Linked DNA regions of Homo sapiens. The protein of the gene in region 1 purifies or fractionates together with the protein of each later gene. This does not show direct contact. Each region holds a gene or a part of one and is shown in the gene's direction. Other genes may lie near its edges. The genes, in order: SPATA20, UQCRFS1, RAVER2 and RREB1.

Region 1 (6,771 bases):
CTGTCCTCCTGACTGGCAGTGACCTCCTTGCCCCTAGCCTGTCGGTAGCTATCGGTGAAGACCCGACTGCTGGTGTCAGCAGTGACCCTCTCACCTTAACCTAGATGATGACCTTCTGTCCCCTGACTTGGTCAGTGACCCAGTGACCCTGACTTGGCTAATGACATTCTGGGCTCTAGGGGGACAAGTAACTTACTGGTCCTCTGTGAACCAATGATATTCTGACCTCTGGCTTAGGCTATTACCTTCTGTCCTGTGGGTTGACTCTTGACCTCACAGCCTGTCCAGAGACTGCCTGTTGAGTGAACTCCCAGCCTCTGCCTGGCCCAAGGCCTCCTGACCACCCCGATCTCTGTCCCCACTTTCCCATTCTCTCACCTGCATGTTCTTGGTGCCCCCACAGTGATCCTGAGCTTCCTGTTCTCCTACTGGCTCAGCCATCGACTGACTCAGGATGGCTCTCGGGCCCAGCAGATGGCCTTGCATACCCTGAAAATGATGGCTAACGGGGGCATCCGGGACCATGTGGGGCAGGTGACGGGCACTGGGTGTTCCCTGGAGGGGCAGCAGGGGGCTGTGGGGTGGGGCAGAAGCTGGGACTGGCCTCCAGCTTTGTATCCGCACAGGGCTTTCACCGCTACTCCACAGACCGCCAGTGGCACGTCCCTCACTTTGAGAAGATGCTCTATGACCAGGCACAGCTCGCTGTGGCCTATTCGCAGGCCTTCCAGGTGACCCCTGACCCCAGCCCAGAGAACAGGCATCTCACTCTGGCTGCCCCTCCCAAGGCCTTCCTGGTGACTGTGGCTTCTCTTAATCTGAATCCCCTGTTCCCTCCCATGTACCCACTACCCAGGCTTCCCTCCCCCGCCTGCCTCAGAGAATGTTGCCACCTTCCACCTGGGCCTCCCCAGTGACCTCTCTGTTCACAGTCTCCTTTCTTCCCTTTCTTAGCTCTCTGGTGATGAATTCTACTCTGACGTGGCCAAAGGCATCCTGCAGTACGTGGCTCGGAGCCTGAGCCACCGGGTGTGTGTCCATGGTGGCAGGCAGGCCTGGCTGTGGGAGGGGTTGGGGCCTCCACTGCCCTGTGGGCCGGGGCCAGCCAACTCTCCCCTCCCCACAGTCCGGAGGCTTCTATAGCGCAGAAGATGCAGACTCGCCCCCAGAGCGGGGCCAGCGGCCCAAAGAGGGCGCCTACTATGTGTGGACGGTCAAAGAGGTTCAGCAGCTCCTCCCGGAGCCTGTGTTGGGTGCCACCGAGCCGCTGACCTCAGGCCAGCTCCTCATGAAGCACTACGGCCTCACAGAGGCTGGTAACATCAGCCCCAGTCAGGTGAGGACTTCTGGGGTCACCTGACGGGCCCTGGTGCCTGCCAGGCGTGTGAGCTCGCAGACAAAGGCCATTCTCCTCAGGACCCCAAGGGGGAGCTGCAGGGCCAGAATGTGCTGACCGTCCGGTACTCGCTGGAGCTGACTGCTGCCCGCTTTGGCTTGGATGTGGAGGCCGTGCGGACCTTGCTCAATTCAGGGCTGGAGAAGCTCTTCCAGGCCCGGAAGCATCGGCCCAAGCCGCACCTGGACAGCAAGATGCTGGCTGCCTGGAATGGTGGGGCAGCACACCTGAGACCGAGCCTGTCTGTAGGATCCCCCTTCACAAAGCCCCTGTCTTTCCGGCAGCGGCTAAATGCTCACTCTCCCTTGATTAGCGTTATTATTCTCAGTTGACAAAAGAGGCTTAAGGAGCTTGAGTAACCCGCCCAAGGTCACGCGCAAGGGCTGGGAACCCCGCCATGTCTGGCTTTGGAGCCCAAGATCTTAGGGATCACCCATGGCTCCAGGGAGGTGTTGGGGCCTAAGGTGATAGGGTGGACATGCCTGGAGGGTCCTGGCCAGCTTCTTACCACTACTTGTCTCTCCTGGCTCCAGGCTTGATGGTGTCAGGCTATGCTGTGACTGGGGCTGTCCTGGGCCAAGACAGGCTGATCAACTATGCCACCAATGGTGCCAAGTTCCTGAAGCGGCACATGTTTGATGTGGCCAGTGGCCGCCTGATGCGGACCTGCTACACCGGCCCTGGGGGGACTGTGGAGCACAGGTTGGGGGCTGGGTAGACCGGGAGGGCCCGTCTCCCCAACGCGTCCCCAGCCTACCTCTGCCCTACTTCTCCCCTCCATGTGGACTCCAGTCCTGGCTCTGCCAGGTGCTTGCTGTGAGTTTGTAGCTTCCCTGGGCCCATTTACTCATCTGGGAAGTGGGCTGATGGCACCTGCCCAAGAGGGTTCATCTGGAGGGTTAAGTGAACAAATGCGTGAAAGGGCCTCCTCTGGGAAAGGCCCTCTCTCCTGGGGCTCTCCCCAGCCCCTCCCGTAATGCCTGTCCCCCAGCAACCCACCCTGCTGGGGCTTCCTGGAGGACTACGCCTTCGTGGTGCGGGGCCTGCTGGACCTGTATGAGGCCTCACAGGAGAGTGCGTGGCTCGAGTGGGCTCTGCGGCTGCAGGACACACAGGACAAGCTCTTTTGGGACTCCCAGGGTGGCGGCTACTTCTGCAGTGAGGCTGAGCTGGGGGCTGGCCTGCCCCTGCGTCTGAAGGACGGTCAGTGGGGGTGCAGGGCTAGTCTGGGGTCCTGGGAGGTGTAAGTGCAGCGTGGGTGAAGAGCTGGTGTGGGCAGGAGCCCTCCTGGCTTTGTGTCTCTGCTACTTATTAATGGCGTGATTTTTGGCTGCTGTAATATTTCTGTGTCTCAATTTCTTTTTTTTAAATAGAGACAGAGTCTTGCTATGTTGCCCAGGCTGATCTTGAAATCCTGGGCTCAAGTGATCCTCCCACCTCGGCCTCCCAAAGTGCTGGGATTACAGGCATGAACCACTACACTCAGCGTGTTTTGTTTCGTTCCTTTCTTTTCTTTTTATTTCCTTTCTCTTTCTTTCTTTCTCTTTCCTTTCTTCCTTTCTTTCTTTTCTTTCTCTCTTTCTTTCTCTTTTTTTTTTTTTTTTGAGACAGGGTCTCACTGTCACCCAGGCTGGAATGCAGTGGCATGATCTTGGCTCACAGCAACCTCTGCCTCCGGGGCTGAATCAATTCTCCCACCTCAGCCTCCTGAGTAGCTAGGACTATAGGCATGCACCACCATGCCTGGCTAATTTTTTGTAGAGATGGGATTTCTCCATGTTGCCCAGGCTGGTCTGAAACTACTGGGCTCAAGTGATCTGCCCACCTCGGCCTCCCAAAGTGCTGGGATTACAGGCGAGAGCCACCATGCCTGGCCTGTTTCTTAATAAGTAAAATGGAGCTAACATTGGTACTACCTTACAGGGTTGATGTAAAGATGAATGTAGCTGTTCTGTAAACATGCTTAGCACAGTAACTGACACCCATGGATTCAGATATTGACCAAGGCTCACTTGGTCTCTGCCCTCATGAAGCTTACAGTATGGTAGGGGAGACAGCGAAAATGCAGTAATGATGCAAAAACACATGCACAAATGTGCAGTTAAAATTGTGGTGAGTGCCATGAAGAAGTAGGACGCTCTATGTGTGCCTGCTCCCTATCACCCATGTGCCTTGTCTGTGGTTAAAGGTTTCTTTCCCAAAACTCAAATTTTAGCTCCTCAAAGATCAGGACTTTCTGCCACTGTTGTATCCCCAGGGTCTAGTGTGGTTCTGGCACATTGTAAGTGCTTAATAAATGTTAACTGAGTGAATGAAAGGGCCTTGGGAGAGAACCACAGAGGAGGACCAACTCAGCCTAGGGAGAGATTAGAGGACACCTGTGACAGGTGTCATTTAACCAAGGCCTGGAGGGAAAGAGGGGCCATGTGGCCATGGAGAAGCTGTGGAGAGAGTTCAGGCATAGGGAGCAGTGCATGACAGGCCTGGTGCAGGCAGCCTGTATCCTGGAGGACAGGCAGGGCCCGCGTGTTCCAGGAGGGCACCGAGGAGAATGCTGAGGCCGGCAGGGCACGGAAGCCGTCTTTTTTTTTTTTTTTTCCTAAGAAAAGAAGGCTGGTCTCAAACTCCTGGGCTCAGGTGATCCTCCCGCCTCGGCTTCCCAGGTGCTGGGACTACAGGTGTGAGCCACCATGCCCGGCTGGCAAGGAGGTTTTAAGTGGATTGTGATCTGCTCTGGTATGGTTTTAAGGAGGTCACTCTGACCACTGATGGAGAGAAGTGGGGGTGGGGGAAACAGGCGACCAGTTAGGAGGCCATTACTCGTGTTCAGTCCAGGCAGGCATTGGTGAAGGCTCAGAGGATGTGGAAGTATGAGATGGGGAGACATGGTGAGATTTGGATCTCTTCTGGCCACAGCCCTGGCAAGACTCACAGATGGATTAGAAGCGGAGGGAGAGGGAGAGGAAGGGGACAGGATGATGCCGCTCTAGCTTGAGCAGCTGAGTGGCTGGACAGAGGCATCAGCAGCGAGGAGGGAGCCTGGAGACCAACAGTTGAGGCTAGGACAGGTAGAGTGGAGGGTGCCATAAAAAAGACAGCAAAGTACTGATAACTGCTGGAGTGGCATCCACACCCAGAGCGGGGAAGGGGCAGGATGGGCAGGGCCTTTTCTCTGTCCCGTCCCCCAAGTGGCCCTGGATACAGTCCTGGGCAGGGTCCTGGGACTCAGTGACCTGCCCTTACCCCCACCCCCTGCCTCCCTATGTGCTGTAGACCAGGATGGAGCAGAGCCCAGCGCCAATTCCGTGTCAGCCCACAACCTGCTCCGGCTGCATGGCTTCACGGGCCACAAGGACTGGATGGACAAGTGTGTGTGCCTATTGACCGCCTTTTCCGAGCGCATGCGTCGTGTCCCGGTGGCGTTGCCCGAGATGGTCCGCGCCCTCTCAGCCCAGCAGCAGACCCTCAAGCAGGTGGGGGGTGAGGGCATCTGGGCTGGGACCTCGGGTAGGAGGGAAGTTGGGGCTGCGATGGCAGATGGGAACAGGGGGTGGGGTTCCTGGGCTGTCCCCAGAGCTCAGGTCTGTGTGTGTGCAGGCACGTGGCCTGTCAGACAGGGAGGCAGAAGTTAATATGAGTCCGTGGTGGCTGATGAAGTGTTTCTCTGTACGTCTTGGTGTCAGTGTAATTGCTTCTGTCCATACTGTGTTACTGGTGTGTGTGTACTTCCGGGTGTGTGTGACCCTGGAGGTGTGTGTCTGTGCACCTACCTTTGAGGGGGATGCTGGTGTGAGTGTTTGTCTGTCTGCATGTGGATGCCCCATCTGCAGGTTTGCCTCTGTGTCTGCCTGCATGCGTGTGTGTCTGGTGTTTGTGTGTGTGGTATCTGCCTCTGTGTGGGCATCTACTGTGTGTGTGTGTGTGTGTGTGTGTGTGTGTGTGTGTGTGTGTGACTACTCTGTGTCTGTCTGAATGGGTCTCTGTGTGCTCTGGGTCTTCTGGGTGTGTGTCTCCCCATGTTTGTATCTGTACCATTGTGTATATGTATGACATTTCCACTTCGGTATTCTCATGTGTGAGTGTGTGTGTGTGTTCCCACTTGCCAAGCATTAACTCATCCTGGCAGCTGAGATGAGTCCCTGTTCCTTCTTAGAGATATACGGTGGGGCGGAAGGAGGATGGGGAAGCCCTGGTGGTCTAGGGCTCAGCCCTCCCTCCCCTGACACACCGGAGTGACCTTTCTATTCCGGTCAGATCGTGATCTGTGGAGACCGTCAGGCCAAGGACACCAAGGCCCTGGTGCAGTGCGTCCACTCTGTCTACATTCCTAACAAGGTACCCATCCCTGTGAGCCCAATCTGCCACCTCCCCAGAGCTGCCCCCTCCCATCCTCAGCTCCTCAACATCTCCTTCCCCTCAGAATGTTGGGAAGAGGGAACTTCCCAGTGGGCCTTTCTAATGGGCAGGTGACCCCACCCCGGCAGGTGACTCTCCCTGCTCTGCTGCTGCCCTAGGTGCTGATTCTGGCTGATGGGGACCCCTCGAGCTTCCTGTCCCGCCAGCTGCCTTTCCTGAGTACCCTCCGACGGTTGGAAGACCAGGCCACTGCATATGTGTGTGAGAATCAAGCCTGCTCAGTGCCCATCACTGATCCCTGCGAATTACGAAAACTACTACATCCATGACTGCCCCAACCCCCTTGGGGTGGGGCAGAAGGTGAAGCATCCCAACTGACTAGAGACTCAGGCCCTGCAGGGCCCTATAGAACCTGTGGCCATCCCTGAGCACCCTGCCACCAGGTGACCTCGGCCATACTCACTGCCCCCCTTGGGCACCCACTCACCCTAGAATAAACTTAACAGTGTCCCGTGGTAACCTGAGGGCCTCAGCTTTGCTTATGAGGGAGGGACTGGGAACCAGCAGCTCAGGGCCACTTCCTCTGGCAGCCCCCACCTGACCCCTCTGCCTTCTCCCATTTCTCCTTCATCTTCCAGGGGTCAGCAGACTGCCCCTTTCCCTTCCATGGTCATTGTAGCCTGAATGAATTTAGTCCCCTGAACTGAGGTCAGGGGACTAAAACCAAGTAAAGATGCCCAGGGGTGGGCATGGGGGTGTGGACTGGCCCAGGAGGGAGAAAGCACAATCCTTGCCCTCAGAAAGAGGTTAAGAAGGGAACCTGCCCTCCCCTCCCCATTGTCTCCTTGTGTTGAGCTGGAAAGGGGGCAGAGATGCTTTATATGAGCTTTTATATTTCACAGAATGGTGACTTTGCATATGCCCTGGTGCATTGTGGGAGCTGCTATTGTCACGACTAAGACATTTCTTTTGGGGTATCCATCTAGCCCCAGCCTCGAAAGGATGGAAGCAGGGCCTCC
Region 2 (8,354 bases), on another chromosome or scaffold:
GTGACTCCAGCAATGGGAGGACTTAGGATCACACTTAGGCCGCCTGACTCAAGAGCCCAGGCTCTTGCAAAGTATTTGAAACAAATGAGCTCAATTAATTCCACACATTTTCAGGGGGCACATAATACAATCCAGGTGTAAAAAACACTGGGGGACTTTTGGTGCTACTGCACCAGCCTGCTTGGCAAGAGATGGATGTGTGGCTGATAGGGAAACTGATAGGGTTTTCAACAAAGCCTGAAATTAATCATACTTAATGAATGTGACTAATGTGATGAAAGAATGAGCGATTAAAATATTAGCACATCTGAACTTCTCCTCCCTGGCTAATCTCCTCCCTAGGGTTATCATCTTTCAAAGAAGTAGGGGCACAGAATTACAGAAACGGGTTTTATGGAACACAAATGCCTTTTAAATGGCTTAGATTAAGGACAGTCTGTGCAGTTCTCAAGCGGCTGTCTGTCTTCACATCTCGCTGCTCAAGTGAGGGACGTGGGCTGTGGGGAGAGGCTGAAACTGTCAAGATGGCTGCAACTGGAAATGGGAAGCCAGGCATTTCCCGGGGTAATTGTGTGGAAACAGGAGACAGGCGTGGGGTCCCTTCAGCAGGGAGGCGGTTGCCTTTCTGTGTAGGCACTAGGTGAGATGAAAGTGGCTGGGAGGCATGTTCCCTGGGGATGAGGCAAAGGCATCTTACTGGCTTTGCACATTATGCAGGATCACAGGCAGAACTACCTAGGGACCAATTTTGTTTTGAGGATGACGAATGCAGAATCCCAGCACATTTGCCTTAGAGCTCCCCTCCCTATGCCCCCTCAACACACATTGCCCAGATGAACACATCAAGGCAGTAGGGAAGAGGGCTGGGGGCGGTGGTTTGCGCCTGTAATCCCAGCACTTTGGGAGGCTGTGGCGGGCGGATCATGTGAGGTCAAGAGTTTGAGATCACCCTGGCCAACATGGCGAAACCCTAACTCTACTAAAAATACAAAAATTAGCTGGGCATGGTGGCATGTGCCTGTGATCCCAGCTATTCGGGAGGCTGAGGCAGAATTGCTTGAACCCAGGAGGCAGAGGTTGCAGTGAGCCGAGATCACACCACTGCACTCCAGCCTGGGCAACAGAGCAAAACTTTGTCTCAAAAAAAAAAAAAAAAAAAAAAAAGACTGTAGGGAACAGGAAGTGTCTAGACTACAACTCACACTTGGAACTAGGAGATTCCCCTGCATATCAGTGTTCTGCTACTCTCCGGAATCAATCGATCATGCTTGTGCAAGGAATTATATAAACCTGAGGTCCCAAACTCGAGGCCTCAGCAGATGGGCAGGTAATGTAACTGAATGGACACAGTGGGAAAGGACCCAGACCACCAAGCAGGTACCTACCCTGGCTGACAGCACCCCACCGTCTTTCTCTTTGTTGAGGACATGGGCCTCGAGTGGCTTAAAATAATGCAATTTTATTATTTTACAATTCTGGAGGTCTGAAGCCTAACACAGGTCTGTAGGGCTGCACTTCTTCTGGAGACTCTAAGGGAGAAGGTTTCCTTTCCATTTCCAGCTCTATCTCTGCCTGCAGGTCCCTCCTCTGGCCCCACCCTCAAAGCCAGCAATGTGGCATTTCTGTCCTCTCACCTCTTGCTTCCCTCTTCTAAGACCCTATGAACATGCCGCACCCACCCGGACACTGCAGGAAGACTCTCTGATATGGTTTGGCTCTGTGTCCCCACCCAGATCTCACCTTGAATTGTTACAATCCCCTTGAATTGTAACAAGGGGGGGACCAGGTGGAGGTGATGGATCATGGGGGCGGTTTCCCCCATGCTGTTCTCATGACAGTGAGTTCTCATGAGATCTGACAGTTTTATAAGGGGTTCCCCCTTCGCTCTGCTCTTATTTTCTCTCCTGCCACCCTGTGAAGAGGTGCCTCCTACCATGATTGTAAATTTCCTGAGGGCGCCCCCCCAACCAGCCGTGCTGAGCTGTAAGTGAATTAAACCTCTTTTCTTTGTAAATTACCCAGTCTCAGGTATTTCTTCATAGCCGCATGACAACAGACTAATACACTCTCCCTATCTCAATCTCCAATCACAGCTGCAACATTCCTTTGCTGTGTAAAGTAACATATTCCCAGGTTCCAGGGATTAGGCTGTGGACATTTTTGTGGGGAGGCATTATTCCATCTACCACAGTTTGTATGTGGGAGTACTCACAATTTGTAAATGCTAGCAAATAATTCTGAGGTTCATAGCACTGTGTATGCCAGATCACCAGGTGTCTCTGGGCAGAAATGAGTGGGGAGAGAATGAATCTCCAGTCCATGACTTCCGACCTCTGATTTAAACAGTGTTTGTTAAAAGGAAGGCTTGGTGTCATGCTTCCTCCTGCCTTGTTCATACATACACATTGCGTGTCAGACTTCCAGGGAACTGAGAAGCTTACCAAGCATTTATGTTCCCAGGCCTGTGGCTATTTTTTTCCCTCAGTTTACAAAACTAACAATGTTTATTAAGCTCTCATTGTATGCCAGTGTGCTAAATATCTCACATGGATTCTTTCTTTTAATTTGCACAGCAATGTCATTTTTATCCCTGTTTTACAAATAAGAAATCTGACACTCAGTAACGTTGCCCGATGTCACACAGGTAGTAAGGGGCAGAGCTGCCATGAAGGCCAGGCTGTCTGGCTCCAGAGTGAGCTGATACATGAAAGCTAAAACCCCCTTCAGTTAAATAACAACCACTGAGGGGTTGCAGTGGTGTGTACCTGTAGTCCCAGCTACTCTGGAGGCTAAGGGAGGAGGACTGCTTCAGGCCAGGAGTTTGAGACCAGCCTGGGCAACACAGCAAGACCCCCATCTACCAAGTGGAACCCAGGTTGGCCTACAGAAGTCCAAGTTCCAGTATGCCTGCCACTCCTGGACATTGGCCTCCTTCTTCCACGAGAAGACAGCTGTTCGGCCATACAGTTACCCATCTCTCTGCTGCAACGCTGGACTCGAACACCACTACCAGATGCGTTCTTATCAATGTGTCTTTGGGCATGTCATTTGTCTTCTCTGAGTCTTAGTTTCTTCATCTAGAAAATAGAAAGTTATTATTATTGCAGATATTTACATACTGTGTGCCAGGCACAGTTCTAGGCATTTTACATGTATTAATCCATCTCATCCTTAAAATAACTCTCTAGGGTAGATCCTGTTATTATCTCTGTTTTACAAGAGAAAGACGGAGGCACACACAGAGATTAAATAACTTGCCCTAGGGCACAGCTAGTGAGTGGTGAAACTAAAATTGAACCCAGGAGGTCTGGAGATAATTCCTATTCTGTTCACCCAACTGGGACATTGTGAAGGTTTTGTGAAGGATCATTCATTCATTCATTCATTTTTCATTTCCTTACCAACTCAGAGGGAATTGTGATATTATTTCTTGTGAAGCACTCAAACCATGCATGCTGTGTGACAACTTCTCTGGAAATGTCTTTTATCCTAAGGTTGTTGCCAAGGGAGAGCACTGAGCCAGCTGTGTGATGAGCCTGGCTAGGGTGGCCCCTGAGGAGGCAGCCTCCAATCTTGAGAGTACAATATAGTCCCTTGGGCTATAAGGCTGGTCAAAGCCTAGGCCCTAAGGGGAGTCATAGGAAGGTCAAAGGGGAAACCTGTCAGTACACTTTGGACCTGGCATGAGGAATAACAACGAGTCAGCAAGGATCAAGGGAAGGCTTCTTAGAGGAGGTGGCATCTCAGATAAAAACACCACTAGCAAATCCTCACTTGGTGCTGCCTGTGTGCTGGGCCTGCTTGTAGATGCTTTACACGTTTTAGTTCATTTACTCCTCCCAGTAACTTTACAACACACATGGCATCATTACTGCCCCCATTTGGCAGGTGAGGAAACTGAGGCACAGAGAGGTGAGGGAACTTGCCCAGATCACAGAGCCCATGCACAGCACAGAGCCAATTCTGTGCACTGCTTATATTAACATTTACTTAATATTTAAATTATTTTTGACCTAAATGAAAAACTTTATCTCAGTATAGTACAGAATAGAAAACCAGTATGGATAGAAAATCAATACTATGAACCATATAATGAAATCACTCTAGACTCAGTTCTCTGCTAAGAGCTTCTAACTCAAGATCTTTTCTGTTAAAAGTGGGAGATAAGTGTAGAGAGGAATTAAAGATATATTAGGATCAAACTGAGGCCAAGTGAATTTGCTCATGCCTATAATCCCAGTACTTTGGGAGGGGGAGACAGGACTCCTTGAGGCCAGAAGTTCGAGACTGGAGTGGGCAATATAGTGAGACCTCATCTCTACTTTTTTTTTTTTTTAATTAAAGATGTATTAGCACCAAACTGAGACTTTCTCATTGGTGCAATCAGGATTGAAAAACAAAACAAAAGAAAACAAAACTTTCTCACTATGTGATGGAACATGAATGAGCGAGCTCTGTGCATCCTCTAAAATTCTAAAATCCTACTTTGGGAAACAGTGGTGGCACTGAAGAGCATAGACTCAGGAGACAGATTACCCTGCTTCACATCTTGCTGGCTATCCAGTTCCTGGAAAAGAATCTCTCTAAACCTCGGTTTCTTCATGGGTAAAATGCTGATAGTAATAGCTCTGACTTCATAGAGACCTTGATAACAAATGAAAGAACGTAGGTATAATAAAACGCAAAACCAAATACACAGTGAATACTTAATAAACATAATCCATTAGCATTATCGAGCTTTGCACAGATGCCTCTGGCCTTTTTGTTGTTGTTGTTGTTAGATGAAGATAATAAAAATCATCATAGTAAACACATAGCGATTACTATGTGCTGGACTTCGTCGTAGTTGAGATATATTACCATCCTAAGTTAAACTATAATCGTTTATTGTTATCTCTAGGTCTTCCTAGATGAAATTTTTACCCTAAAGGATCGTAAAGTCGGCCCACCGGACGTCAGTGGGGTCCCCTGTTCAGCCCTCTCGTTCTTCTGGGGATCTCTCGGGACACTGACGAGGTGGCACCGGGACCTACAGGTGGGCCGCAAGCCCCGCCCCCAGCGACGGCTTGTAGCCCCGTCCCCCGACGCAGCGCCTCTCCAAGTTTGCCCCGCCCTGCAGGACTGCAGAATTTCCTTTCCGGCGGCGCGCTGTCGTCACGCGTCCCGCGCCTCCTCGCGCCTGCGCCGTGGTTGGAAGGTCGTCCCTGTGACCGGCTTGGCGGTTGGAGCGGCTGTCGCCATGTTGTCGGTAGCATCCCGCTCAGGCCCGTTCGCGCCCGTCCTGTCGGCCACGTCCCGCGGGGTGGCGGGCGCGCTGCGGCCCTTGGTGCAGGCCACGGTGCCCGCCACCCCGGAGCAGCCTGTGTTGGACCTGAAGCGGCCCTTCCTCAGCCGGGAGTCGCTGAGCGGCCAGGCCGTGCGCCGGCCTTTGGTCGCCTCCGTGGGCCTCAATGGTGAGCCGGGGCGAGGGCCGCGAGCAGGGCTGGGGGTCTCTCGGTGCCCGCTCCTCCGGCCCCCAGCAGGGAGCGGCCGCGGGCGCGCGAGCGGAGCCTGAATCAGGTCGGGCTGGGCGGCCTCCGCAACTCTGGGCCTGGCCCCCGGGCTCGGGGCGTCTTTCTGGTGGCCGGCCTGGACTCGCGTCCGCCGGCTTCGCCTGGTTCCTCCTCGGCCGAGTTCACGAGCTCTGTAGTCCCGCTGTTCCAGCCACCTCTGAGGGGTTTTGTTGCTTGCAGGTCGTTTGACCTTGGGCGAGTTTCTAAACGTACTTCCTGTGAAATGGATTCATATCTTTATCAATTTTGTAGGGGTGTCGTGAGGCTTAGGTGGAGGAATTCTACGTAAAGCCGTTAGCACAGTTTGGGCACTTACATGCTTAAGAAATGGAAACTTACTAATATTTGGGAAGTTGGTCTTCTCACCACTACCGATCCCTTCATGTCCTTCCCCTTCATCACCCCCCCACCAAAAAAAAAACAAAAAAAACATACACAAGGTCAGTTACAGTGTAGTGTCACAACATAATCAGTCGTCAAGGACGGGCAGAGATTGACGACATTTACATTTTACAGATGAGAAAACAGACGAGGTAGAATGACTCGCACCAGGATCCGTGGTGTGGACATGTGGTAGCAGGGATTTGACAAGACGAATTGTCGTAGCCACTGAGCTCTTCGCAGGGGCTATTCCACACCCTCTGTCCTTAGATCCCCGTTTATCTTCTTTGCCTCGCCTTCCATCTTTACTTGGCCCTGTATCGGAGATAGAGAAATGGCAGCCTGTGGGCAGTGTGTCTGCAGGCTGTGTAGTTTTCAAAAAAACTGGGAAGACTAATGGCATCTCTTAAAATGCTGGAAGCCGGTAATACTGGGATCTAGTTTCTACTTGGGAAAATTCCATAGTGTGCTGTGTAGTGGCCGCCCCCGCAGTTGGAGCAAGTGGTCTTCTCCAGTTTGTCACAGTCTTTACCAGGTCTGCGTGTTTCATTCTGTTACCAGCCTGGCTCCACTGATAGCTGTTTGTGACTCTTCCCCTACACGCTAACCAAATTGCCCGCCACTTTTCTTTTTACTCTGTCTTCATTCACCCTGGGCTCTGCACTTTCTTCATGGTCCTTCCACTAAGTTGCTACATGTCCATATGTTTTCCTTACCCATCTTTTCAATCTCAGTTAAGGATCAGGTGAATAAAGTTTTTATTTGCTGATTTGTCTGTCTCTGTAGCACATACACTTTACACTCTGTATTGTGTTTATTGGTAACTCCTCCACCCTTGGGCTTAAGGGCATAGAGAAGGTAATATCTTCTTTATTTTTCTATCTTTCACAACGTCGGATTTTGTATACAGTTAGTGCAAAGTATTTGTGAATGAATATTTGTTAAGGAGCATCAGTGGGTTTTGAAGAAACTGTCCATGGCAGGTGTAGAGTACCCTAGCCCATCCTTGGGACCTGGAGGTGAGAAGGAAGGAAGGAGAACATTTCAATAGCAAAAGAAAAGCATCTTTGGAATTCGTCGTGTTGCTAAAGTTTCTTCAAAAAATTGGAGGCTTACATTTCTCTGATGGCCAGTGATGCTGAGCATTTTTTCATGTGTTTTTTGGCTGCATAAATGTCTTCTTTTGAGAAGTGTCTGTTCATGTCCTTCGCCCACTTTTTGATGGGGTTGTTTGTTTTTTTCTTGTAAATTTGTTTGAGTTCATTGTAGATTCTGGATATTAGCCCTTTGTCAGATGAGTAGGTTGCAAAAATTTTCTCCCAATTTTTAGGTTGCCTGTAAACCACAATGAGATACCATCTCACACCAGTTAGAATGGCAGTCATTAAAAAGTCAGGAAACAACAGGTGCTGGAGAGGATGTGGAGAAATAGGAACACTTTTACACTGTTGGTGGGACTGTAAACTAGTTCAACCATTGTGGAAGTCAGTGTGGAGATTCCTCAGGGATCTAGAACTAGAAATACCATTTGACCCAGCCATCCCATTACTGGGTATATACCCAAAAGACTATAAATCATGCTGCTATAAAGACACATTTACATGTATGTTTATTGGGGCACTATTCACAATAGCAAAGACTTGGAACCAATCCAAATGTCCAACAATGATAGACCGGATTAAGAAAATGTGGCACATATACACCGTGGAATACTATGCAGCCATAAAAAATGATGAGTTCATGTCCTTTGTAGGGACATGGATGAAATTGGAAATCATCATTCTAAGTAAACTGTCGCAAGGACAAAAAACAAACACTGCATGTTCTCACTCATAGGTGGGAATTGAACAATGAGAACACATGGACACAGGAAGGGGAACATCACACTCTGGGGACTGTTGTGGGGTGGGGGGAGGGGGAGGGATAGCATTGGGAGATATACCTAATGCTAAATGATGAGTCAATGGGTGCAGCACACCAGCATGGCACATGTATACATATGTAACTAACCTGCACATTGTGCACATGTACCCTAAAACTTAAAGTATAATAAAAAAAAAATTGGAGGTTTACCTGACTTAGAGAAACTATTTTTAGAAACAGGCAAATAATGTAGAACCATAAGGCAAAAACCTTTTCTGTAATCATTTCAGCCTGTAATTTAAGTTCACATTATAGTCTGTCTAGATGGTTCATGGCAGGATGGCTTATGGGAGTGGAGGGGTTGGATCTGGAGAAGATTCTTGAATTGGAGAGGAAGGTTGTACTATTTTCATGCAGATTTCCAAGGCGCATTGGAGCTCAACCTTAAAATAAAACTTGTTTTGTTAAAATTCCTTAAATTTTCTCCTTTAAGTATTTGATTTTGCTTTAGGTTAGAATTAAATCTAGCATCTTACTGAAAGTCAGACCTAATGCAGC
Region 3 (8,380 bases), on another chromosome or scaffold:
GTCCCTTTGAGGCCTTTGGGCCTCTCTGTTTCCTGTTTCAGTACTTGCCCCATTTCGTCTAGAAAACTCCTACTTGTCCTTAAGACCTAGCTCCTCATAATGGCTTCCTCTAAGTCAAAATTGAACGCCTGTCTGTGCTACAAAGAGTACTTTATTCATGGCATTTATGACATGGAATTTACAATTACTGAGTTGCAATGACTTTCCCCAGGGAAAAGTCCATTTCTGAATAAAAATCAATCAAATTCGGTGTGTGGTACACCGGTGTACAGTGTCTGGTACATTATAGACATTCAATAAATACTGCTAAATGAATAATGTGTATTGTTTATAGTTTACAAGGTCTTTTCACATACTTAACTTATTTTCATCATATTATCATATCACATAAGCATAAGAGTTTGGATACAAGAAGCTGTTGTTATTACTATTATTATTAAACTGAGACTTAGTAAACATTTCTAGCATTTTCCCCACCTGCAGAACTTTAAAAATACACAAAAATTACCAATATGGGACAGTAAACTAGTTCAACCATTGTGGAAGTCAGTGTGGTGATTCCTCAGGGATCTAGAACTAGAAATACCATTTGACCCAGCTATCCCATTACTGGGTATATACCCAAAGGATTATAAATCATGCACATGTATGTTATTGCGGCACTATTCACAATAGCAAAGACTTGGAACCAACCCAAATGTCCAACAATGATAGACTGCATTAAGAAAATGTGGCACATATACACCATGGAATACTATGCAGCCATAAAAAATGATGAGTTCATGTCCTTTGTAGGGACATGGAGGAAGCTAGAAACCATCATTCTCAGCAAACTATTGCAAGGACAAAAAACCAAACACCACATGTTCTCACTCATAGGTGGGAATTGAACAATGAGAACACATAGACACAGGGTGGGGAACATTACATACTGGGGCCTGTTGTGGAGTGGGGGGAGAGGGAGGGATAACATTAAGAGATATACCTAATGTAAATGATGAGTTAATGGGTGCAGCACACCAACATGGCACATGTATACTTATGTAACCAACCTGCATGTTGTGCACATGTACCCTAAAACTTAAAGAATAATAAAAAAATAAATAAATAAATAAACTTTAAAAAATTACCACCAATATTTAAAAAAATAAAGGCTAAAGCTAGCATAGGGCTCATATTTTAATAACATGGTCATTATATAGATCATGATAATTACCTGTGGGTATTGGTAAATACATTGCTGCTTGATAATTGTACTTCACTTCAAGTTCAGATTAGAGTGTTCCTTTAGTATGCCATGGAAGCAGCTATTTAAAGAGTCAGGCTAAACCTGGCATGAGAGGAACTCTTTGGAATTACAGTAGCATTCCAAAGTCTTTGCAGTTTCCATCCAGTTCTTTTATGTGGCAATAACAATTAATTCAGTTTAAAATTATTTTTAACCAGTAGATTCTGCCATTTCCCTTAATTCCTTGAAAACAGTTGAGCAAATGTAAAACATACTTGATTTGAAATCTAGGGCAGTGTTTTTCGAAATGTGAGTAAGGACTCATTAGTGATATGCAAAATCGACTGTGTAATTCAAGCAATTTTAAAATGGAATGGAATAGAATAGGAAATACTAGAATGTGCTACATGATGAAGGAGCGTGATGTTTTGTGAAATCTTCATTTCGATTGTGTGTGTGTTTACTAAATTGTGATATAAAATATATTTCCCACTGTGGCATATATTTCCCACTAGATTGGGTCAAAAAAGTTTGAAAGCCACTACCCTATACGACGTAGCAATATTGCACAAGGAGTGGGATCAATTCAAAGTAGCCACTTAATAAAATTGGCTTAATAATTTGATAACATTGTAATCATGTCCCCATTGGGGCCAAAACTGGAATTACATTATCATAACTCCCAAAACATAATCAACACCTGATTCATTCACCAGACTTAACCTCAAATAACATTTAATTATTTCCAAAAATTAAACCCATCTCTAAGAGGTGAGTATTTGCTACCACATAAACTATGCAGAATAATTTGCTGTAGATTATAAAGTCAATTCCAAAAAAGCACTTTGGGGCTGGGCGTGGTGGCTCACGCCTGTAATCCCAGCACTTTGGGAGGCCGAGGCGAGCGGATCATGAGGTCAGGAAATCAAGACCATCCTGGCTAACATGGTGAAACCCCGTCTCTACTAAAAATACAAAAAATTAGCTGGGCTTGGTGGCACACGCCTGTAGTCCCAGCTACTCTGGAGGGTAAGGCAGGAGAATCGCTTGAACCTGGGAGGCGGAGGTTGCAGTGAGCCAAGATCACGCCACTGCACTCCAGCCTGGGCAACAGAGCAAGACTCCGTCACAAAAGAAAAAAAAAAAGCACTTTGGAGAATGTTTTGAGCAAAAGCAATCACTGAAGTTATATTCAGACCACTATCCGTTTGCATATTTATTATATTTAATTATAATCATTGCATAATTTTCTCTCAGTGAGACTTAGCCCCTATTGTACAGGAGCATTATTTTACTATTTCTGTCTTCTTATTGCCTTTATATATTATCTAGCACATAAGGGACATTTAATAAATGTTTGCCAAGGAGGTGGTACTCATTTGGATAAATACATGTTCTGAAACATAATGAATGACTCAAGGTTACAGCCTATGCTAAGGCTATTCATGCTTCTTCACTTCAAAGAATGTACTTTTCAAAGTCTCTCAGCTCTACAAAATAGGGCCTTATTGGAGTTTAAAATGTATACCTTTTAAAATCAAAGGAATACAATTTAAAAGCAAAATGATACATTAATACTAGAATATCATGGATGCAAGCAGAGAAATAAGTGCTCTTATACAATGCTTGTGATAGGGAAAACTGAGGTAAGTTTGTAAATACATACAAAAAATCCTTAAATATGCTTACTCTAGATGCAGAAATTTTGCTTCTAGTTCTTCACTCTGTGGAAAAGTAATGATCTTCAAATATGTATAGAGGGTTAAACTCAGTGCTGTTTACAATAGATAAAAATAATAGGAAATACTAATGCTAGGAAATAAGTGAATTTTCTAATTCAACAGAATAATATGCAGCCATAAAAACCATGGTATTCAAATACATTGGCATAGAAAGGGATTCAGCAGACATACTGTAAAAAGCAGAAAACAGAGCTGTAAACTACAGAATATCATTCAAAAACATTTTTATGCAGTAATAGTCACGTAATAAAATTAATATTTTAAAAGTGAATAGTTCAGTGACTATTTAGTACATTCATATTATTGGGCTACTGCCCCCTCTGTCTAGTTCCAAAACTAGATTTTCATCATTCCATAAGGATGTTTGCACCCATTACCTTCTCCTCCAGCCCTTGGTAAACACCAATCTGTGTTCCGCTCTATGAATCTACCTATTCTGATATTTTATACGCATGGAATCATACAATATATGACCTTTTGTCTCTGGCTTCTTTCATTTAATGCTTTGGAGGTTCGTCCACCTTGTAGGGGTCCTTAATTCCTTTTTATGGCTAAAAATATTTCTTAGCATATATATATCCCACGCTTTGCCTATCTGTTCATCAATAAATGGACATTTGGGTTGTTTCTATCCTTTGGTTACCAGGAATAGTGGTGGTATAGAAGGGTGTATTGCCGAATATCATTTTAATGATACAAGTATTAGCAGCCATTATTTTTGGGTGGACGGATTACGGGTGAATTATTTTATGTTATTCAGAACACTGGGCTTTGGAATCAATCAGAACAGATCCCATTTCCTCACGTGTAAAGTGAGGAAAACAAAACCTACGTAATTGAATGATCATGAAGAGTAAATAAATATGTATATGTAAAGCATTTAGAAATGCGTGGTTGGGGGGAGCACATGGTAAGGACTGAATTTGTAGTATTTTTAAAAAATCTTTAAAACATTTTGTTTTTCTTTTAATTAGTGTTAAAGTCTTTTTTTTTTTTTTTTTTTTTTTTTTGCTAGTGTACTTGCATGCTACACAATTAAGATGCATGGTCCCCTTCGCTGATGGTCACCTGGGCTAGTGCCAAAGGCTGCTGGATTGTTTGATCTGATGACATCCGTTTGACTAAGTATAGTTCTACACTGTAACTCTCCCTCCAAGTTTCAATTAAAATAATGTTCCAAGCAGCGTATTCTCCAGCCCCTCTGCCACAGCTCCTTTTCCATTCTAGTCTTTGTTTCAGCATCACTTTCCATGTTGCAGACCCAACTACCCAGGTTTTACATTTTAGGAACTGCATGACAGGGACAGAGGGACAGGTGAAGGGCACAGGCTTTCTCATACACAGCTAGCAAAATACATTACGATCAGGTTTTACCAAATACATAACATTTCTCCCACAATGTCCCTCTTTTTACTCCCCAGAAAATCTCATTGTAAACTCAAACTTTGCCAAATATGCTCTTCTTGAACCAACAGAAGGGTTACCATCGGGAGCCAGCCGGGCTGCAGGAGGCGCCCTCCTGCCACCCCTCCAGCCCCATCTCGGGTGTGGGAAGACCGAGTTCGCGCCCGCAGCCCCCGGGCCGCCCCAGCGCGGGAGTTTCGAGGGGAGCCGGGGGAGAGCTGCGGCGTCACATGGGGGGCCAGCCGGGGACAGGCGCCTGGGGCTGAGTCTCCCGGCGAAGCCACCGCGAAGGGGCCGCATCCCCCAGAGAACGACCCTGGGCGTTCGCGAAGGCCTCGCAGAGAGGGGGAGCCCGCCTGCGCGTCCGCGCCCTCACAGGTGTCCGGGTGGCGGCGCCCGGCCCCGCCTGCGGACCCGCGAGAGGCGGGCGCGGGCGCGCCTGTGCGCCGGGGCCGGGGGCCGGCGGGGGAGGTTCCCGCGAGGTGGTTCTCGGGCTCCTCCTCGGCGCCTCAGGTTTCCTCTCCCCGCCAGCAGGCTGCTGGCTGCGGCGCCGCCTCTCTCTACTCCCTCCTCCCACCGCCCCCCTTCCCCGCGGTTGGGCCCACTCTGCGGCCTCTGCCCGCCTCGCCCTCGCCCGGGCCTCCTCCCGCTTTCTCTCTCCGCTTCCCCTGGAGCCTCCGAGGAGTCCGCAGCCGCTGGGCGCCCGGGAAGATGGCGGCGGCGGCGGGAGACGGCGGCGGCGAGGGGGGCGCGGGCCTGGGCAGCGCGGCGGGGCTGGGGCCGGGGCCGGGGCTGCGCGGGCAGGGCCCCTCAGCCGAAGCGCACGAGGGCGCCCCGGACCCGATGCCCGCCGCGCTGCACCCTGAGGAGGTCGCCGCGCGACTGCAGCGGATGCAGCGGGAGCTGAGCAACCGCAGGAAAATCCTGGTGAAAAACCTGCCCCAGGACAGCAACTGCCAGGTACTGGGACGGTGATAGGGGCGACGCGTCCCGAGGGGCGGCGGGGCGGCGCTCCGTGTCCAGGCTGGGATCGGGGGCGCCTCAGAGCGGTCCTGGGGAGTGGGTCGGCGCCGAGTGGTGAGAGCGGCCCCTCGGTTTGACTGAGTTCTTGGGGTTTCTAGCCTGCAGACGCCCTGCCAGGGAGGGGGGCAGATTGGGAAACTGAGGCTCTGAGTGGCGAAGCGGCTTCTCCAAGGTCACGGGAATCAGGGGCTGCTGCCTCCAAGTTCGGCCCGGTCTTTCCTTCCCCTACGGCCGTAGAGGAGTAGGAGGTGAAGGAGAGTGGAGGTGAGTTGTGGAGCACACATTTTGCGGGGGGGAGCGGGGGTAGAGGGGGCCGAAGCTTCGGGAGCACCTTGGCAGGGGCGAGGGCTCCAACGTATAGTCCCCGGTGCTCGGGAGTGCCATAGGGGGCAGGGGCACGAGAGAGCTGGGAGTGAGTTTCGCTGTTGTTGCAGAAGCACTTGCCCAAGTTTCTATGAAACAACTCTGTCTTCTCAGTTTGCTAAGGCCCCAGAATAGAGTTATTGCTGCGCTCCTTGGAGCCTTGCAGCCGCCTCCTGCTACGCCAAGTACAGTACTGGAGGGTTTGTTCTCAGTGACTTGGATGAGGTTTAAAGATAGCTACTCTGTGTATTTAATCCAGATTAACTGTTGCTTTTAAGATTAGAAACTCTGCATCTATTTAACTTTTTTTTTCCCCTGATTTCAAAAGCTGCATGCTCATTGTAGGAGAGCTAGGAAAGACAGAGAAGCACAAAGGGGACACAGAAATTACCCATATTTCTGATACCTGAAGATAACCATTGTTATCCTGGGATGTTGTTCTTTTCTCTTTTCCTATGCATATATATTTTTGTTTTATCAAAAGCTTGAAATCATTTCTTTGATTCTTCAGGATTTCTTAGCTGTCTGGATGTTCACACATGTTTCACATATAACCTGAATTTATATACTGCTCCGAGTGTGGTGGGCTGTCCTGGTAGTTGCGGATTTGTAGTTCCTCCTGTAACCGGATGCATGAAATTGCAAGAGGGCTGGCTATTGACAATTGCATGGCAGTTCTTCCATGTGACTTATAAAATAATGAGACCAATGCCCCATTACTATGTAATGAGACCTTACATAGCCATTCACAATAAATATGAACATATAACCTTATAACCCGTAGGCATGGGGGGCTATTTTGTTTCAAAATGCAGTGTCTGTCAGTATTGTTTATCTCATCTGTCTTTCAACTCTTTCCATTCCGCCATGGTCCACTTCCCATCTGTCAGGTAATGTTTTGTGATACTACCTGTTAAGGACACCTGCAATGGACTGATTTCTTGGAAGCAGCCTCCCCTGCCCATACAAATAGAGGACTGTAAGGGAGCTCAGGAAGGAGGAGGCTTGGAAGAAGCAGATGGCATTTTTTAAAAAAACAAATTTAAAAAATAGCAGCTCTTTGTATAGACAGTCTAGGAGGAGAGAAATAGAGAAGTATCTCAATGTCTTTGTAGAATGTCAGCTGTTTTTGTTATCACAATTCCTTGCATTAATTCTAAATATATTTAGACCCCAAATTGAAGACGTTCTGTCTATTCTTGCTTTGCTGTTGGTATCTTTCTCATTTCCCTTCGCAATAGACATGAAAAATATATCAAAGGGTCTAATAAAAGGAGCAGTTTTAATTAGTGATAGAAGCTTTCTCAGAATTACACTGGGATTTGTATTTTTGAGATTTCATCTACTTAAACTAATATTTTCATATGTTCTGCATGAATTTTTTTGTATTTTTTGTTTTAACAATTTCCCTTAATTATAATGTCTGCTTTTTCTTAGTGACTATATTTTACTGTCAACTTACTGATGAAAGTTTCACTTTATTTTATTTTGTGTCTTTTTGCTAGTAAGGCCTACATAAAATCACCTGTGCTAAAACTACATATTTACCCTTATGAAATGGTTAATATGGCTTTTGTTCAATTATTAAGTAATCAGATATTTTTGAAATACTAAGTTCTTGTTCTTTTCCAGAAGAGACTGTGTTTATTCATTCATTTCTTTCTTTCTTTTTTTTTTTTTCTGAGACAGAGTCTCGCTCTGTCATCCAGGCTGGAGTGCAGTGGCGCGACCTCAGCTCACTGCAACCTCTGCCTCCCAGGTCCAAGTGATTCTCCCTGCCTCAGCCTCCCAAGTAGCTGGGATTACATAAGCCTGCCACCATGCCTGGCTAATTTTTGTATTTTTTAGTAGAGATGTGGTTTTGCCATGTTGACCAGGCCGGTCTTGAACTCCTGACCTCAGGTGATCCCACACGCCTCGGCCTCCCAAAGTGCTGAGATTACAGGTGTGAGCCACTGTGCCTGGCCTCATTTCTTTATTTTAGAATATCACTTTAAGGATCAAAGACATTCATAACTCTAGTTCTCAAACTGTGTATTTATGTCTCTAGAAAATACTGATCAATAACTTACTAGTAGAAACCCAATAATTTTTTCTTAACATTTGAAATATATGAGTGTTTTCTTTATTAAATGTAGTTTTCATAAATCTCAAATTTTGTTTTATTTTTGGTATAGCAGATTTATAATAGCATCCCACAACTTTATAGTTCCTATAATTAAAAGGCATACTGAAAGTATTTTTAACTGGAAGCTTTTAGAGGTATGTTTATCAAATACCTTATAGAAGTACCGGCTCTAAAAAAAAGTGAACACCTTTATATTAAGTTCTCAAAAGCTTTCTCACTGAATAATTACTGTGCATTCAGTCAAGCCCTGTCTGGTCTGCCTAAGCTTTCTGGAATCTTCCTGGCCCTCTTTGTTTTCACAGCCTCAGCTCTGGTTCAAGTCCTTTTCGTCTCTTGTTCACTGTTAACAACTTTTCGGTTTGTCACCTACCTTCATTACTGTCCTGTTTCTTACATTTTAGCTCCTTCTGCATGCTACTTCCCTTGAGGGATACTCCTGAAGCACAAATCTGATCATGTCACTCTCCTGCTCATAAAAAACCAGCCTTTGGC
Region 4 (7,592 bases), on another chromosome or scaffold:
GCCCCTGGTCACACCACGGACGGTGGTGGCCACCTCCACGCCCCCGCCTCTCATCAACGCCCAGCAGGCTTCCCCGGGCTGTATCAGCCCCAGCCTGCCGCCACCGCCCCTGAAGCTCCTCAAAGGCTCAGTGGAGGCGGCCTCCAACGCCCACCTGCTGCAGTCCAAGTCCGGGACCCAGCCCCACGCGGCCACGCGGCTCTCCCTGCAGCAGCCGCGGGCGGAGCTGCCGGGCCAGCCTGAGATGAAGACGCAGCTGGAGCAGGACAGCATCATCGAGGCCCTGCTGCCGCTGAGCATGGAGGCCAAGATCAAGCAGGAGATCACAGAGGGGGAACTCAAGGCCTTCATGACAGCGCCCGGCGGCAAGAAGACGCCCGCCATGCGCAAGGTGCTCTACCCCTGCCGCTTCTGCAACCAGGTGTTTGCCTTCTCGGGGGTCTTGCGTGCCCACGTGCGCTCCCACCTGGGCATCTCGCCATACCAGTGCAACATCTGCGACTACATCGCCGCCGACAAGGCCGCGCTCATCCGCCACCTGCGCACGCACAGTGGGGAGCGGCCCTACATTTGCAAGATCTGCCACTACCCCTTCACTGTCAAAGCCAACTGCGAGCGGCACCTGCGCAAGAAGCACCTCAAGGCCACCCGCAAGGATATCGAGAAGAACATCGAGTATGTGAGTAGCAGCGCGGCCGAGCTGGTGGACGCCTTCTGCGCCCCGGACACCGTGTGCCGGCTGTGCGGCGAGGACCTCAAGCACTATCGTGCCCTGCGCATCCACATGCGCACGCACTGCGGCCGCGGCCTGGGCGGGGGCCACAAGGGCCGCAAGCCCTTCGAGTGCAAGGAGTGCAGCGCCGCGTTCGCGGCCAAGCGCAACTGCATCCACCACATCCTCAAGCAGCACCTGCACGTGCCCGAGCAGGACATCGAGAGCTACGTGCTGGCCGCCGACGGCCTGGGCCCCGCAGAGGCGCCGGCCGCTGAGGCGTCGGGGCGCGGGGAGGACAGTGGCTGCGCTGCCCTTGGTGACTGCAAGCCCCTCACTGCCTTCCTGGAACCCCAGAACGGCTTTCTTCACAGGGGCCCCACCCAGCCTCCACCTCCCCATGTCTCGATCAAGTTGGAGCCCGCCAGTAGCTTTGCGGTGGACTTCAATGAGCCCCTGGACTTCTCGCAGAAGGGCCTGGCCCTGGTCCAAGTGAAGCAGGAAAACATCTCCTTTCTGAGCCCTTCTTCCCTGGTCCCCTATGACTGCTCCATGGAGCCCATCGACCTGTCCATCCCCAAGAACTTCAGGAAAGGGGACAAGGATTTGGCCACTCCCAGCGAAGCCAAGAAGCCTGAGGAGGAGGCGGGGAGCAGCGAGCAGCCCTCTCCCTGCCCAGCACCCGGCCCTTCTCTTCCTGTAACTTTGGGGCCCAGCGGAATCCTGGAAAGCCCCATGGCCCCTGCTCCGGCGGCCACCCCGGAACCCCCAGCACAGCCCCTGCAGGGCCCTGTTCAGCTGGCGGTCCCAATCTACTCCTCAGCCCTGGTCAGCAGCCCTCCACTCGTGGGCAGCTCAGCCCTCCTGAGTGGCACAGCCTTGCTGCGTCCACTGCGGCCCAAGCCCCCGCTGCTTTTGCCAAAGCCCCCCGTGACAGAAGAGCTGCCCCCGCTGGCCTCCATTGCCCAGATCATCTCATCTGTATCCTCGGCCCCCACCCTGCTGAAAACCAAGGTGGCGGACCCAGGGCCCGCAAGCACTGGCAGTAACACCACGGCTTCAGACAGCTTAGGAGGTTCTGTCCCCAAAGCCGCCACCACCGCCACCCCCGCTGCCACCACCAGCCCAAAAGAGTCTAGTGAGCCTCCCGCTCCAGCCAGCAGCCCAGAGGCTGCCTCTCCCACCGAGCAGGGCCCAGCGGGCACGTCGAAGAAGAGGGGCCGGAAAAGGGGGATGAGGAGCCGACCCCGCGCCAACAGCGGCGGGGTGGACCTGGACTCCAGCGGGGAGTTTGCCAGCATCGAGAAGATGCTGGCCACCACAGACACCAACAAGTTCAGTCCGTTTCTGCAGACAGCGGAGGACAACACTCAGGATGAGGTGGCCGGAGCCCCTGCCGACCACCATGGGCCCAGTGATGAAGAGCAGGGCAGTCCCCCAGAAGACAAGCTGCTGAGGGCCAAGCGGAACTCGTACACCAACTGCCTGCAGAAGATCACCTGTCCCCACTGTCCCCGGGTTTTCCCTTGGGCCAGCTCCCTACAGAGGCACATGCTCACACACACTGGTAAGAGGGCCACCGGGCTCCCAGGCAGTGAGTCCTACTTCCTGGTAGGGGGAGCCACGAGTGGGGGTCAAAAGCGAGACCCATCTCCCACAGTTCCAGTTATTCCTAGCTTGGCTTCTTCCCCGGTCTCCGAAGCCCCGAGCTTGTCTGGTGGTGCTGTATTTCCTATGTGCTCTCAGTACCCACATGGCCTTTGTGCAGGGGCCGAGCCCTCCAAGGGCAGCATTCTACTAAGTGTTCATCCGGGGCGTTTTGAGGTGAAAGTGGTCACAGGCCCTCAGATCACTCATGGCGTCGCCTCATCCCTTCCGGAGGTGGTAGCCAGATTATCTGCTGGGTTAAACAGGGAGGCGGCTCCACAGACGTGAGACTTTGTATTAAGGTATTGGGGCATAATGAGCTCGGTGCTTTGACATTCCATTCCAGTGTCCTCAATGCAGCTTTTTAAATTTTGACAATTTTGTGAAGTTTTTTTGGATGCCATGTCTTCTTAAAGAGAAATATGACAAATTGTGAGGTTGGCTGTTTTCTTTCAGTTCACTAAGGCAGTCACATCTTCCCCTGTTGATTGTGAAAATCAGCAATGAGTGGTGGTAGAATGTTTTAAAATTTCTGTTTATACTACAATTGTAAGCCTTTCTGAGAAACTTCTCTCAGAAGGGCCTGGCGCTGGTCCAGGTGAAGCAGGAAAACAACTCCTTCCTGAGCCCTTCTTCCTTAGCCCCCTACGACTGCTCCATGGAGCCCATCAACCTGTCCATCCCCAAGAACTCACACCCAAGTGTGAAAAAATTCTAAGTAACAAACTTAAATTGTCAAAGTGATACCCCAAAAGTATCTTCCTTTTTTCTTTTTCTTTTTTTTTTTTTTTTTTAAATAAAAGAGTCTCACTATATTGCTCTCAAACTTCTGGGCTCAAGCAGTTTTCTTGCCTCTTCCTCCCAAAGTGCTGGGATCACAGGCATGAGCCCCCACACCTGGCCCCAAAAGTATTTTTCTTTTTTTGAGACGGAGTCTCGCTCTGTTACCCAGGCTGGAGTGGAGTAGTATGATCTCAGCTCACTGCAACCTCTGCCTCCCTGGTTCAAGCAATTCTCCCTGCCTCAGCCTCCCAAGTAGCTGAGATTACAGGCATGCGCCACCATGCCCAGCTAATTTTTGTATTTTTAGTAGAGATGGGGTTTCACCATGTTGGCCAGACTGGTCTCAAACTCCTGACCTCAGGTGATCTGCCCACCTTGGCCTCTCAAAGTGCTGGGATTACAGGCGTGAGTCACTGCACCTGGCCTGCCCAAAAATATTTTTCAAATGTTAGTTTCTAGAAGCTGATTTTTAAAGAGAAGTTTAGGATAGGAATATACTTTAAATAATTTTGTTATCAGGTGCTTCTAGTATATAAATGGCCATACAACTCTCATCTGAATTATAATTTTCTAAATTTTCTCAGTGAACAGTCTCAGTATTCAGTGATTTGTGTTATTGAACTAAGCGCAAATTAGTGAGATCCTATCTTTTTGGAGTTTACAACCAAAATATTAATAAATAGATAGGGCCTAAAACCAAATGGTACTGGATTGGTGAATAAAATACAGAACACCAGTTAAACTTGAATTTCAGATAGACAACAAATAATTTTTAGTATAAGTATTTTTATGTAGTTCTTGGGATTTACTAAAAAATTATTTGTTTATCCAAAATTCAAATTTAGCTCTGGGCATCCTGGGTTTTTTTTGTGGGTTTTTCTTTTTGCGCTAAATATGGTAACCCAAGGTAGTCAGGAGGTTTATGACAGGATGTTGAGGGTGGGTTGTGGGAATTGGTGTGAGCTGTGCTCTGTGTCCAGGTGGAAATGCATTCACAAAGCTTTGGAGAAGCTCGTGGAAGGATGTTTCTCCTAGATGAGGTGGAACAGCAGGAGGGAGGTCATGGAGCCACCGCTGGATACCTGAACAGTGTGCAGAATGGAGCCTGGGGAGGGAGAGGAATCTGGGAGCCAGAGGGGAGTTGTGGCTGGGAGCGATAGGACTCTCAGTGGCTGCACTGGTCACCAGAGCTTGCCACACAGACACGGCATTTCCTTCTGCTGTGGTGGGTCCTTGAATCCAGGGATTGAGGAGTAGCAAGTCAGGAGTGCCTATCCAGGGAGGACTCAAGGAGAACCAGGATTTCTAGATTTGTAAAGTATGTACTGCCCTTTCATACCACTGTCTCCCTGTTAAAATAGTTTAAGCCTGACAAGTAAAGCAACCATTCTAATGATGACAGCAGTTCAGGGAAGAAAATGCATCTTCAAGAGAAGGTGCCCCTTATAGCAATGTCTTTTGCTACCCTTTTTTGGGTGCCACCTGTTTATCGCCTACTGAGAGTTTATGGAGAAGTGAGTCTTTCTGTTACCACTTTTCAGAAAGCAGATGGTCTGGATCTGATGATTGGCTTGGCTCGCCCCCTTCCTCGGTGCTCCCACCTCCCCCTGCTGTCACCCAACCTCCCCATCTTCCTCTTCTAGTATTTTCTTTTTTAAGAGTTGTGCCCATGTCTTTGCAGGTGCCTGATATGTGTTCCCATTTGTGAATCCAGTCATGATTGCCTGGCTTTTGAATGCCAAAATGTCAGTGTTGGTTTAAAATTTAGTAGCATCTGAAACTGAGCAAGAAAGCAGGAGGTTTGTTTAAGTTAGGATGGGGTAGATATAAATATAAACATTCTGCCTCTTGTCCCTTAAAAGTTATTGATAACCTTGATAGATGTGTCTGCTTTGGCGCAGTCCCTGTATCCTACCATAATATGTTCTTGGTAGAGCTAGTCTTCATGACAATCCTGTGAGGGTGATGTCATCCATGTGTTGCCACAAGGAAATTGAGGTTTACTTTTAAGGAGCTAAGTAACTTGCCTACAGCCATATGGGGAATAAGAGATGGAGCTACTGTTCCAAGCCAGGGTCCGGTTCTGTGCAACTGCCCACTGGTCAGGGTGTGTGTGCCCAGTGTGTCCTCTGTGTGAAGGCAGAAGGCGGGCAGAGTGCACCTTCCATGTCTCCCTGTGTTCCCACATGTCCACATTGCAGAAGGTTTGGAAGTAGTTTGAGATAAGGGGGGACACCACTGTGGATCAGAATGTTATTAGCTAATTTCAGACTTAATGACTACAGAATCGTGTTAGCCACATGCATAGACACTGTATGAAGGTTGGTGCCCATTGAGCTCCATTAATTTCCTTTGCTGGGCTTCACTCTCAGCTTCCAGGGATGTTCAGCATCACCACTGCTAAATCATGTTATATGGAGCACTTGGCTACATCCAGTGTCGTGTTAGAGCATTTTCCATTCACGGAGCATTAGAGCTGGAAGGAGCCTGGGAAGTCACCTGATGGCCCCTCAGCCCACAGACCTGATCTTTCTCCTGGTAGGCAGCTCTGCTGTCACTCAGAACCACATGGATCCTTGGCTCCCTAGGCTTCTGTGAGGCGCTGTCTCCAAAACTTTGAAAAAAGTCTTGAGTGTACACATGTTAAACATTGACTCTGCAGCCACCCTGCAAACAAAGGTGTTATTCGGAGAAGATGTTCTGTGGGGTATTTTTGTTTTTTCTAGTTTTTTGCTTTTGTACAGACAAGGTCTCACCATGTTACCCAGGCTGTTCTCGAACTCCTCAGCTTTGCAAAGTATTGGGATTTTAGGCGTGAGCCACGGTGCCTGGCCGTTTTGTGTTTTTGAGTACAGTGTTAAAATCTAGCTGAGTTCCAGCCAGAAGCATTGAGCAGCATCTGGTTTTGGACTGCATTTAAACAAACTGTCTACACCTTGAATGCTGGCCTCCTCCTACCCCCTCAGCAGATTACTGTACTGTCTCTACTTTGTCTCAAAACACGTGTTCTCCAGTCCTCCCAGTCCTCAAAGGGGCAGCAAGAAGCAGATCCGGTGTTCAGTGTCCAACGAGGGGTATACCTGCTGGCTGCTGGCAAGGAGCATGTGGCCTCAGCCTTTTCTTGCTCCCGGCTCAGGTTCCAGGAACTGTGTTTGATGAGGAAGCTGGCAGGGCTGTCATTTTTCATACCCCCTGGCACAGTCTCCACACACACCTGCCTTTCCTCCTTCCTTCCACTCCTCTCCAGCTCTCTCCCAGACCATACTTTCCTGCTGATGAGGACAGTTCCTGGTTCCTTACCTTTCTCTACCTAAACGCGCCACTCCATAGGAGACAAGAGTGCACTGTTCCTGCCTTTACCCCTCGGGAGCATCTCGTGTGTTTTTAGGCCACAGGTGGAGGAGAGGGTGCCAGGAAACACAGCCAGTCTGTTCTAGCCTCTGTCCTCATTTTCTTCCCCCTTCCCTTTGCTCCAGTTCCTTGTCCCACAGTGATGGGCTTGGGACTATGGGGTGTCCATTCCGGGCTTCCCTGGCTTGCTTACTTTCTCATGGGTGCTTTGAGCGCCTTTTTTGAGCCGGCTCAGGCTTTCCCCCCACACCCTTTCCTCCCTGCTTCTATCTGGCAGTGAGGGTCAGAGCTTCGGTCAGTGAGTCATCCAAACCTGGGTGTGGAAAGCACCTGGGACACCACTTGTATTTGGCTCCTTTTAGCTTTCTTAAAAGACAGCTTTGGCCGTTTGTACCCAGTCCTGTGTACACTTCTGCCAAATACAGAGAGAAAATACCAAAAGAAAGAAACCTGCCTGCAGGGGTGGAGGAGCAATGGAGAGAAGGCTGGGCTGCTCAGGCTGTCATCTTGTTACAAAAAGAAAAGCAACTGCAAGGTTTTCTATGCTAGTTAGACCCCACCTTTCTAACCCTGATTGTCTTTGAAAAATGAACAGAAATGTTTTCAGTTCTGTTTTTTTTTTTTTTTATCTTGGAGGCCAAGGCCCCAATCTCCTCATCAAACTATTCTCACTGTTCACTCTTCTCTTGCCCCAATGTCCTTCTTCGTTTCTTGACTGTTCTGGGAGAGTAAACACTGGCTAATTTTTTTTGTTTGTTTTTGGAGGTTTTTTTTTTTTTTTTTTTTTTTTTGAGACAAGCTCTCACCCTGTCACCCAAGCTAGAGTGCCTGTGTGCACCCTGGCTAGAGTACAGTGGCATGATCACAGCTCACTGCAGCCTTGAACTCCTGGCTGAGTTCAAGTGATCCTCCTGCCTCAGCTTCCCAAGTAGCTGGGACTACAAGTGCACATCACCATGCCTGGCTAATTTTTTTATTTTTTGAGACAAATTCTTGCTCTGTAGCTCAGGCTGGAGTGCAGTGGCGTGATCTTGGCTCACCACAACCTCTGCCTCCCGGGTTCAAGCGATTCTCCTGCCTCAGCCTCCAGAGTAGCTGG

What was found.
Region 2: the proteins of SPATA20 (region 1) and UQCRFS1 purify together in Homo sapiens (co-immunoprecipitation; 2 studies listed by IntAct). This does not show direct contact.
Region 3: the proteins of SPATA20 (region 1) and RAVER2 purify together in Homo sapiens (affinity purification with mass spectrometry; 2 studies listed by BioGRID and IntAct, with this or other methods). This does not show direct contact.
Region 4: the proteins of SPATA20 (region 1) and RREB1 purify together in Homo sapiens (affinity purification with mass spectrometry; 2 studies listed by BioGRID and IntAct, with this or other methods). This does not show direct contact.

What each region holds. Positions count from the first base shown.
Region 1 is NC_000017.11:50,549,582-50,556,352, forward strand, and holds the end of SPATA20 (spermatogenesis-associated protein 20 isoform 1 precursor), read left to right. Parts: intron 1-403; coding exon 404-534; intron 535-626; coding exon 627-731; intron 732-954; coding exon 955-1,029; intron 1,030-1,126; coding exon 1,127-1,336; intron 1,337-1,416; coding exon 1,417-1,609; intron 1,610-1,929; coding exon 1,930-2,098; intron 2,099-2,387; coding exon 2,388-2,599; intron 2,600-4,669; coding exon 4,670-4,869; intron 4,870-5,650; coding exon 5,651-5,731; intron 5,732-5,910; coding exon 5,911-6,081; 3' UTR 6,082-6,271; downstream 6,272-6,771. UniProt on the Homo sapiens protein: May play a role in fertility regulation.
Region 2 is NC_000019.10:29,210,004-29,218,357, reverse strand, and holds the start of UQCRFS1 (cytochrome b-c1 complex subunit Rieske, mitochondrial), read left to right. Parts: upstream 1-5,206; 5' UTR 5,207-5,239; coding exon 5,240-5,453; intron 5,454-8,354.
Region 3 is NC_000001.11:64,740,088-64,748,467, forward strand, and holds the start of RAVER2 (ribonucleoprotein PTB-binding 2), read left to right. Parts: upstream 1-4,987; 5' UTR 4,988-5,085; coding exon 5,086-5,334; intron 5,335-8,380. UniProt on the Homo sapiens protein: May bind single-stranded nucleic acids.
Region 4 is NC_000006.12:7,229,629-7,237,220, forward strand, and holds part of RREB1 (ras-responsive element-binding protein 1), read left to right. Parts: coding exon 1-2,279; intron 2,280-7,592.